Homo sapiens: one gene and its partners. The protein of the gene in region 2 purifies or fractionates together with the protein of the main gene of each other region. This does not show direct contact. Each region holds a gene or a part of one and is shown on either strand. Other genes may lie near its edges.

What was found.
Region 1: the proteins of ANKRD29 (region 2) and TFCP2 purify together in Homo sapiens (affinity purification with mass spectrometry; 3 studies listed by BioGRID and IntAct, with this or other methods). This does not show direct contact.
Region 3: the proteins of ANKRD29 (region 2) and YTHDF1 purify together in Homo sapiens (affinity purification with mass spectrometry, with the first as the bait; one large-scale study listed by BioGRID). This does not show direct contact.

What each region holds. Positions count from the first base shown.
Region 1 is NC_000012.12:51,166,623-51,170,274, forward strand, and holds part of TFCP2 (alpha-globin transcription factor CP2), read right to left. Parts: intron 1-3,652.
Region 2 is NC_000018.10:23,610,789-23,614,440, forward strand, and holds part of ANKRD29 (ankyrin repeat domain-containing protein 29), read right to left. Parts: intron 1,403-3,652; coding exon 1,304-1,402; intron 1-1,303.
Region 3 is NC_000020.11:63,209,632-63,213,283, reverse strand, and holds part of YTHDF1 (YTH domain-containing family protein 1), read left to right. Parts: intron 1-3,652.

The DNA of each region.
Region 1 (3,652 bases), on a different chromosome or scaffold from region 2:
ATGGCCTATGAAGAGCAATGTAGCTCAATTACGCTTGTGCAGAAACCTTGATTACCTCACCTTTCCTACCTGCCAATCACCTTTCCCCATGCTTTAGACCACCCTGCGTCCTACCCCACAAATACTGCCAAGCCCTATTTTCAGGGTGCCAGATTTGGGATTTGCTCTCCTGTCTCCTCATTCAGCAGCCCTATGAATAAAATCTTGTCTCTTTTGCAAAACCCATCATCATAGTGATTGGCTTGCTGCACGTGGGCAGGACGAACCTAGTTTGATATCATAACCATCATCACAAACAATTTTAGAACATTTTTAACACCCTGAAAAGAAACTCCATTCCCACTAGTAGTCCCTCTCCATTCCCTCCTCCTCCATAGTTCTAGTCAACCACTAATTTATTTTCTCTACAGATCTGCCCATTCTAGAAATGTCATAGAAATGGAATCATATGTATGTGGTCTTTTGTGACTGGCTCCTTCACTTATCATGTATTCACAATGAATCTCCTTTTCCTTTTAGTATAAAGTTTGTGCCACAATAAAAATATAAGAAAAAAAGAATAATAAAAGGACCACTAATAAGGATTAAATAAATCTAATTAAGATGACTCTTTATAAAATACAAATTAATAGATTTGAAGATGAAACCATCATAAGATGCAACAGAAAATAAACTAGGGTAAAACAAATGTGTCAGAGAAGATATTTTATAAAACAAATTGCTTGTCAAAGAGAGTATTTTCCCTAATAAAGATGTAGAACGTCAGACTGATTGACATTTTTTTTTTTTGAGACAGTCTCGCTTTTGTCCCCTAGGCTGGAGTGCAGTGGCTCGATCTTGGCTCACTGCAACCTCCGCCTCCCAGGTTTAAGTCATTCTCTTGCCTCAGCCTCCCGAGTAGCTGAGATTACAGGTGTGCACCATCATGCCCAGCTAATTTTTGTATTTTCAGTAGAGACAGGGTTTTACCATGTTGGCCAGGCTGGTCTTGAACTCCTGACCTCAAGGTGATCTGCCTGCCTCAGCCTCCCAAAGTGCTGGGATTACAGGTGTGCACCACCATGCCTGGCCTGATTGACTCTTAGAACCAGTTGGCAAAGATTATTGCTGGAGGGTGGCACACTAAGATCCAAGGTCTTATTAAAAGGAGAAATAGGCCTGGGAACCGCGGCTGACATGTGTAATTACAGCAATTTGGGAGGCCAAGGTGGGAGGATCTCTTAAGGTCGGGAGTTAGAGATCAGCCTGAGCAACACAGCAAGATCTAGTCTCTACAAAAAGTAGAAAAACTGGCCAGGTGTGGTGGTGTGACCCTGTAGTCCTAGCCAGTCAGGAGGCTGCAGCAGGAAGATCACTTGAGCCCAGGAGTTTGAGGCTGCAATGAGCTACAATCACGCCACTGCACTCTAGCTTGGGTGACAAGAGTGAGATGTCGCCTCCAAAAACATAAATAATAAGACAAAATTAAAATTAAAAAAAAATAAAAATCAGGGCTGGGCACAGTGGCTCACACCTATAATCCCGGCACTTTGGGAGGCCAAGGGGGAAGAACTGTTTGAGCCCAGGAGTTCCAGAACAGCCTGGTCAACATAGGGAGACCCTGTCTCTGCAAAACATTTAAAAATCAGCCAGACATGGTATCTCATGACTGTACCCCCAGGTGCACTCCAGCCTAGGGGACAGCTACTTGGGAGGACTGCTTGAGCTCAGGAATTCGAGGCAGCAGTGAGCTGTGATTGAGCCACTACACTCCAGCCTTGGCGACAAAGCAAGACCTCAACTCTAATGAATAAATAATCAGATTTCTAGTCTGTGCCCCAATCACTGGAGATGGGACCCTGTAAACTGGTGTTTTGTTTTGGTTTGGTTTTTGTTTTTTTGAGACAGGGTCTCACCCTGTCACCCAAGCTGGAGTGCAGAGGCACAATCACAGCTCACTGCAGCCTTGACCTCCTGGGCTCAAACGATCCTCCCATCTCAGCCTCTGGAGTAGCTGGGACTAGGGGCAGGCACCACCATACTCAGCTAATTTTTTTATTTTTAGTAGAGAGAGGGTCTCCCTATGTTGCCCAGGCTGATGAAAACTCTTGAGCTCAAGCAGTCCTCCCACCTTGGCCTCCCAAAGTGCTGGGATTACAGGCACGAGCCACCATGCCTATCCCCAACTGTATTTTTATTTTTATTTCATTTTTTTTTTGAGATGCAGTCTGGCTCTGTTGCCCAGGCTGTAGTGCAGTGGCACAGTCTCAGCTCATTGCAACTTCCGCCTCCCGGGTTCATGCAAGTCTCCTGCCTCAGCCTCCCAAGTAGCTGGGATTACAGGCATGCACCACCACGCCCAACTAATTTTTGTATTGTTGGTAGAGACAGGGTTTCACCACGTTGGCCAGGCTGGTCTCAAACTCCTGACCTCAGGGGATCCACCCACCTCAGTCTCCCAAAGTGTTTGGATTACAGGCGTGAGCCACCACACCTGGTCCCCAAGTGTATTTTTAATAAGCTGTCCAGGTGACTCTTATGAATACTAAAATTTGAAGACCAATATCTAATTAACACAAATTAATAGAATAGATTAAATGTGTATAAGTCAAGAGAGCTGGGTGCAGTGGCTCACGCCTGTAATCCCCCAGCACTTTGGGAGGCTGAGACGGGTGGATCACCTGAGGTCAGGAGTTCAAGACCAGCCTGGCCAATATGGTGAAACCCCATCTCTACTAAAATTACAAAAATTAGCCGGGCATGATGGCGTGCGCCTGTAGTGCCAGCTACTCGGGAGGCTGAGGCAGGAGAATCGCTTGAACCCGGGAGACAGAGGTTGCAGTGAGCTAAGATCACACCACTGAATTCCAGCCTGGGCAACAGAGCGAGACTCCATCTCAAAAAGAAAAAAAAAAAGTCAAGAGAATAGTGACAAGTACCTAACACATGAAAAAAAGGATGAAAAAAACAAAAAAGCCAGGCGTAGTGTTATATGCCTATAGTCTCAGCTACTCGGAAGGCTGAAGTGAGAGGATCACTTGAGCCCGGGAGATGGAAGTTCTACTGAGCCGAGATGGTGCCACTGCACCCCAGCCTGAGTGACAGAACAGGACCCGTCTCAAAAAGAAAAGAAAAGAAGAAAGTACTTAAAATGTTGGCACACTATACTCTCAAGAACTCAAAGTGATGTTTGAAACTTGTGCATTTGATTTTGATGTTGAAAAAACTAAATGTGTAAATATGCAAGCCATTCTAATGTCTGTGAAAAACACAGAGTATGATTTGTAAAGAACTCTTAATTAAATGTAAGATGGCATAGTATCAAGAGCATATGGTATTGCACCTAGTAGATTAACAAATGTTTGCTGGTGATGTTAACTATTTTTATAATGAGTACAGTTATATTTAATTATTTCCAGCCTAACCTCTGGTAACCTAAACAAAATCAAACTTTTTGCTGTGAATATCTTTACACAAGTAACAGCATAAAAAATTGTCAAATATTATGTCAGACGCTCATGTGTAAGTTCAGGGTCAGGGCACTTACTTTCAGACCAAATTAACCTCTGTTTTTATGCTCAGACTTACATAAACAAGGATAGGTAAAACCAAAGTTAAATTTCTCATGACTAAGAACACTGCATGATAGAACATATGGAACTCAAGTTTCCCT
Region 2 (3,652 bases):
TCCCACCTCAGCCTCCTCAGTAGTTGGGACTACAGGTGCACACCACCACACCTGGCTAATTTTTGTATTTTTTGTGGAGACAGGCTTCGCCATGTTGCCCAGGCTGGTCTTGAACTCCTGGGCTCAAGCAATCTACCTGCCTCAGCCTCCCAAAGTGCTGGGTTTACAGGAGTGGGCCTTTGCGCCTGGCGCATGCATTCTCTCAAGACCTTTCCTAGGCTACTCTCCTCTGCTGCAATCTATACATGTGCCAGCTTAAGCAGATGTTGAAGAGGAGGAAGTAAAATGACAATCATTTAAAAAAATTCTTATTGTGTACCCACCCACCGCGAAGTTTGGCCTAATTGTAAATGAAGAATTTAGGACTAGAAAAAAGTGGGTTTGTTTTGTAACAGTGGCATGTACTCCTGTTAACAATACAAAAGCAACCAAATATAGCACAAGCAATTTTCAAGATATGAACATCGAACTTATGGGAATGGTGATAAACTACCAGAATTTTGGCATTTTTAGGGTACATCTTAGATGACAGAACAATACTCCCATAGTAACTGCTCTCCCTTTCTTCCTCGCCTCCACCAGGAGAGTGCACCACTGTTCATTGATAACCACTGGCCGGGCGTGGTGCCTCATGTGTGTAATCCCAGCACTTTGGGAGGCCGAGGTGGGTGGATCACTTGAGGTCAGGAGTTCAAGACCAGCCTGGCTAACATGGTGAAACCCCGTCTCTACTAAAACACAAAAAAATTAGCCGGGCATGGTGGTCTGCGCCGGTAATCCCAGCTACTCAGGAGGCTGAGGCAGAAGAATTGCTTGAAGCTGGGAGGTGGAGGTTGCAGTGAGCCAAGATCACGCCACTGCACTCCAGTCTGGGTGACAGAGCGAGACTCCCTCTCAAAGAAAAAAAGAAAACCATTGATAGCGCCCTCACCCATCACACAACGCACGTCCATGGGGAACCTGGTGCTAAACCATTTGTAAATGACCGGCTTCTGGGTCAGGGTTTCGTACATAGCAGAGCACCTCCCTCGCTGCAAAAATCTATTGAAAGTCAGCCCTTGACACAAGGGTTTGTTAAAAAAGAAAAAAAAAAACCATTGATATGAGTCAGGGTTTTTATTAACAGTAGAATTTCCTGGGTCCAACTGTACTGCTCACTAATCACCTACTAACAGCAACCTTGAATGCCCTTACTATGCAAAGAATGAAGATGGTGACTGGAGCCAGGGAGATGTTTATCCTTCCTGGCCTAGGAGGACACATCAATGGGCCCAAACGAGTTAAAAGATTGCTTAGTGGGTACCTTGTTTCTCAGGGATGGGTCTGCCCCTGCTTCTAGGAGCAGCGCAACTGTTTTAATGTTTCCACTGAGCACTGCTGCATGGAGCGCTGATGTCCCATTCTAAGAGAAAATGACAGTGTGTGTCAGGAGTGAGCTCACAGCCATTGGCATTCAGCATGGCTTTCATCATAAACCATCTGGGTGATAAGACTGTAACCTCATACCCGTAACCTTCCTTATCTTGCCTTGTACTTTTCAAAGTCACATCAGCCCCTAGTATAGTGTCCTTGGATACATAACCAATGGTCAGTACAAATATTGCTAATGTTCTCTTACAAGTGAAATAAGGAATAGGGCTGAGGGGACACATGACTTCATGGTCACTCAGTCTGTTTTACATACTTTGGAACTTGCTGCAGAAGAAACAACAACGCCGTGCCCAACATTTTTGTTCTTCAAGGACAACACGTAAGGACAACACGTACAGTCTGTAGTTTTGCTGAGCCACTTCCAGCGAGGTTAGAGGAAGAGCTGTTTAGCCAACGGGCTGACCTGTCAGACCAGCTACAGACACTCTGAGCACTCAGGTGGGCAGGACTGTGATTGTGGAGCTACAGGGCTTAAGAGGAAGGGTATGTGGGGTGAGGCAATGCCCCGGAGCTTTGAGTTGGAGCATTTTTGAGCACAGAAGGGCCTCATAGGTCAGTTGTTAATGTTTTATGACATTTACTGCAAATATTTATCAAAATAAGGAACCAGCTAAATGCAGCATGTAGCTGGACCACGGAGAGGAGGGGAGGAGACTATAACAAAACTAAGAACAGTGGGCAGTCATAAGACATGGTTCTAGAGGGTACATATGTCCATAAATAGTACCTAATGCAAACTTAGTTTCCTAATTAGTTGCTCATAATAAAAACCACTCTGATTTTGTAAAAGAGTAAAATATCATACCCAGAGAAAAATTCCCACAAAGTAGCATTTTTCTATGGTTGCTTTTAAGTATGTATGATAATTCACTACTCTTGTAACAATTTACTTGTCTAAATCTTAGCCAATCTATCAACTTCACCTACATGCAACACGGGTCAGAATTTTTTTTTTTTTTTTTTTTTTTTTGGAGACAGTGTCTCGCTCTGTCTCCCAGGCTGGAGTGCAATGGCGCAATCTCAGTTCACTGCAACCTCTGCCTCCAGGGCTCAAACGATTCTCGTGCCTCAGCCTCCTGAGTAGCTGGGACTACAGGTGTGTAACAGCCACTCTGCTAATTTTTGTATTTTTTGTAGAGACAGGGTTTCGCCATGTTGCCTGGGCTGGTCGCCAACTCCTGAGCTCAGGTGTTTTGCCCACCTCAGCCTCCCAAAGGGCTGGGATTACAGGTGTGAGCCACCATGCCTGACCAGGAGTTTTTAAAAAGCCAAAAAAGAGCTATTTGAAACAAGATTAGATTTTGCAAAGTTCAAGCTTTCTAAAGCTTGTTCCTTTTATTCATAGAATTCACTTTCATAGATGGTTTATTTTTACTTTACAATTTTTTTTTTTTTTTTGATACGGAGTCTTGCTTTGTCACCCAGGCTTGAGTGCAGTGGTGTGATCTCGGCTCACTGCAAGCTCTGCCTCCCGGGTTCACGCCATTCTCCTGCCTCAGTCTTCCAAGTAGCTGGCACTACAGGCGCCCGCCACACACCCGGCTAATTTTTTGTATTTTTAGTAGAGACAGGGTTTCACCGTGTTAGCCAGGATGGTCTTGATTTCCTGACCTCGTGATCCTCCTGCCTTGGCCTTCCAAAGTGCTGGGATTACAGGCATGAGCCCCCACGCCCAGCTAATTTTTGTATTTTTGTAGAGACAGGGTTTCATCATGTTGGCCAGGCTGGTCTTGAACTCCTGACCTCAGGTGATCCACCCGCCTTTGCCTCCCAAAGTGCTGGGATTACAAGCGTGAGCCAGTGTGCCCGGCCTTTACAAACAATTTTAACAAGTGCAGCTTTTTGGCCTCTTTTTTTTCTTTTTTCTGGAGATGGAGTTTTGCTCTTGTCACCTGGGCTGGAGTGCAGTGGCGTGATCTCGGCTCATTGCAACCTCTGCCTCCCAGGTTCTCCTGCCTCAAACTCCTGAGTAGCTGGGATTACAGGTGTACACCACCACTCTTGGCTTATTTTTGTATTTTTAGTAGAGACGGGGTTTCACCACATTGGCCAAGCTGGTCTTGAACTCCTAATCTCAGGTGATTCGCCCACCTTGGCCTCCCAAAGAGCTAGGATTACAGGTGTGAGCCACCACACCAGACCAGGAGTTTTTAAAAAGCCAAAAAAGAGCTGTTTGAAACAAGACTATATTTTGCAAAGTCCAAGCTTTCTAAAGCTTATT
Region 3 (3,652 bases), on a different chromosome or scaffold from region 2:
ATTTTTGTATTTTTAGTAGAGACGGGGTTTCACCATGTTGGCCAGGCTGGTCTCAAACTCCTGACCTCAGGTGATCCACCCGCCTCGGCCTCCCAGAGTGCTGGGATTATAGGCGTGAGGCACCGCGCCCAGCCTGGTTTCAATTTTAACTCCACCACTGACTGGCCTGTGTCCATGGCTTGCCTTCTCTTGCCTCAATTTCCTTTTCTGTAGAAGAGAGAGAGTAGTAACTGTTTGTAGAATTGTTGGGAGGATGACATCAGATGGTGCACATAAAGCGCTGAGACAGTACCTGATACAGCAGGGCCCAGTGAGTCATAGCTGCCCTGTTTTCTTAGGTAATTCAGGCTTTCTCTGCCTTGGCACTGTGGACATTTTGCACGGGAACATTCTGTTTTGGGGGCTGTCCTGTGCATTGTTGGATGTTTAGCAGCCTCCCTGGCTTCCCACCCACTAGATGCCATTAGCAACTCCTTCTCCCCATCCCCAGTTGTAGCAAGCAAAACTGTCTTGGTGGATGTTTTTTGGGGGATACAGTTGCCCTGGTTAAAATCTACTGGGAGCTGCTCTCTCTCCTCTGTGCTGCTGTTGCAGCAAAACTCCCAAGAGAAGCGGTATCTGTTTATGTCTAAGAGTCCAACTCGGGAATCAGACTTCCCCTGCCTCACTTTCCTACCTCCAGGCCGTTGGCTTGGATGAGGGGCTGCACCTCTGTGAGCTCCTCACTTTGGTGAGCAGGCCTCATGGGGCAGCACAAAGCAGATGCTCTGAGTGCTCCATTTCGTGTGCTGTGATTCACATTCCTTCCTCCGCCACTCCAAGTAGCCCTCAGCTACTGGGCATGTTTACTTTAAAGTAAAACCAGGCTTCACCTCTTCTCTGTGAAGGAATAAAACTAGTCTGCCCTTTTCTGAGGTGTCTTAGAACTTCTTAGAATGTTCCTTCATCCCCCTCCCTCCTACTGCACTTGGCGAATCAAGCAGCTTAGAGACCAAGAAACCTTGTACAGGTGGAGCCTCGGCAGCGCTGCCCCGCGCTCCGACCCTGCTTCTGTTTCTTGTCTCTTGGTTGCCTTCTGAGAATCTGCCCTTCCTCTGGGCAGAACTGACTTGACTTTAGTGATGGGCCTTTGGATAGAGGTAATGGCAGGAAGTTAACTAATTTTTTGAATTTCTTGTTTTCTAGTGTGTTCTTATTATTTTAGTACTTTAATGGTATTATGTACTGAATTTTAGCCAATAAAGGGGGAGGGAGGTTGCATCAGTACACTTAAAAGTGTGTGTGTGTGTGTGTGTGTGTGTGTGTGTGTGTGTGTGTGTGTGTATTTTGGAGACAGGGTCCTGCTGTTACCCAAGCTAGAGTTCAGGGGCATGATTATAGCTCACTGTAGCCTCAAATTCCTGGGCTTAAGCAATCCTCCTGCCTCAGCCTCCTGAATAGCTGGGACTACAGGCATGCACCACTACACCTGGTGATTGATTGATTGGTTGGTTGTAGACACAGGGTCTCTTTGTGTTGCTCAGGCTAGTCTTGAACTTCTGGGCTCAAGTGATCTTCCTGCTTTGGCCTCCCAAAGTGCTAGGATTACAGGTATGAGCCACTGTGCCCAGCCAAAAATATTTTTATAAAGTCGGAGCTTTTGTGTTGTTTGGGAGGATTTCTTTACAAATCGATTATTTTTATGTCAGTGGGTGTCTTAGCTCCATATGTAGAGTATACAGTATGGTTTTATAACTTTTGATTTACACAGACATACCTTTGGAGCCATGGCCACAGTTAAGATAGTGGGCATATCAATAGCTCTGGGTCCTTTTTTGTTGGAGACAGGGTCTCACTCCATTGCCCAGGCTGGAGTGCATGATGTGATCATGGCTCACTGCAGCCTCGACTTCCCAGGCTCAGGTGATTCTCCCACCTCAACCTCCCAAGTAGCTAGGACTACAGGCATGTGCCACCACGCCCAGCTAATTTTTAAATTTTTAGTAGACATGAAATATTGCTGTGTTGCCCAGGCTGGTCTTGAACTCATGGGCTCAAGCAATCCACACGCATCAGCCTCCCAAAGTGCTAGGATTATAGGCATGAGCCACTAGTGCCCAACCTAACCCTGGGTACTTAAAAGAGAAAAATCTAGATATGGTTTGTAGTAGCCAGTTGGAGGCTACCGTGTTTTGTGTGAAACTGTCATACTTAGAATGGTTTAGAAAGTCTTAGGAGAATGCCTGCCTGTTAGGTTGGTTTAACTTGTAATGGGCTGTGAGGGGTTGTTGCCGTGTGGTGGGGGTCCTTCCCTCAGAGAGGCCTCACCCGCCTTGCTGTGCTTCTGGTGCTAGAGTTTCAGTCCTAGTTGCCCCTGAGGCGCTTGCGACTGTAGCCGCTCAGTATCTGTCTTCTAGTCTGTGACTTGAATGGGAGTTGGGGGAGCAGAGGAACTGGGAGTGAAGGGCTCTGGGTTGGGCTTGATTGTTGTGATTTTCTCTCTTTTTTTGTTTTTTGAGATGGAGTTTCGCTCTTGTTGCCCAGGATGGAGTGCAGTGGCGCGATCTCAGCTCACTGCAGCCTCCACCTCCCTGGCTCAAGTGATTCTCCTGCCTCAGCCTCCCGAGTAGCTGGGATTACAGGCACGCGCCACCACGCCTGGCTAATTTTTTTTGGTATTTTTAGTAGGGACGGGGTTTCTCCATGTTGGTCAGGCTGGTCTCGAACTCCCGACCTCTGGTGATCCCCCTGCCTCAGCCTCCCACAGTGCTGGGATTACAAGCATGAGCCACAGTGCCCCGCCGATTCTCTCTTTTGAGGCTTTTCCTGCTCGGGGACTTCTGGTTTCCCAGTTCTCTGTTGTTTTCTGAAAGGAAAGACTGTGAAATGACCCAGAACAGTTCCTACTCAGAGTTTAGAAGACACTGTCTTGGCATGATGCCTGAGTTGGGAATAGATGCCGCTGGCCCCCCAGGCTTCCTGCACACTCCCTGACCAACAGACTGAGTGTGTTTGCTGTGATCCCACTGACAGAAATTACCAAGGCCATCTGGGCATGCCTGTACCTGTGCTGCCGGATGCAGTTTGGTCAGCAACAGACCACAATATGATAGTGGTCCCATAAGACTATGATGGTGCTGAAAAATTCCTGGCACCTGGTGACGTTGGAGCTACCATGTTGAGGGCAGTGTATTACTCGTGTCTGTGGTGCTGCAGTAGGTGTGACCAAACCTACTGCCCCAGTCATACCAGAGTATACACCTACAGTTACGTACAGTACCATACAGTACGTAATAATTGATGATAAACGACTGTTACTACTTTGTGTATTTGCTATACTTTTAAGAGCATATTCTGCCTACTTACTAGAAACAAAGTCAACTGTAAAGCAGCCTCAGGCAGGTTCTTCAGGAGGAATCCAGAAGAAGGCAATTGGTGTGACAGGAGATGACAGCTCCATGTGTGTTGTTGCCCCTGAATACCTTCCAGTGGGGCAAGATGTGGAGGTGGAAGATCCAGACCCTGTGTAGGCCTAGGCTAATATGTGTTTTTTGTGTCTTTTTGGGTTTTTGGTTTTTTTGTTTTGTTTTGTTTTGAGGCAGGGTCTCTCCCTCACCTGGGCGGAAGTGCAGTCATGACTCATTGCAGCCTTGACCTCCTGGGCCCAAGTGAT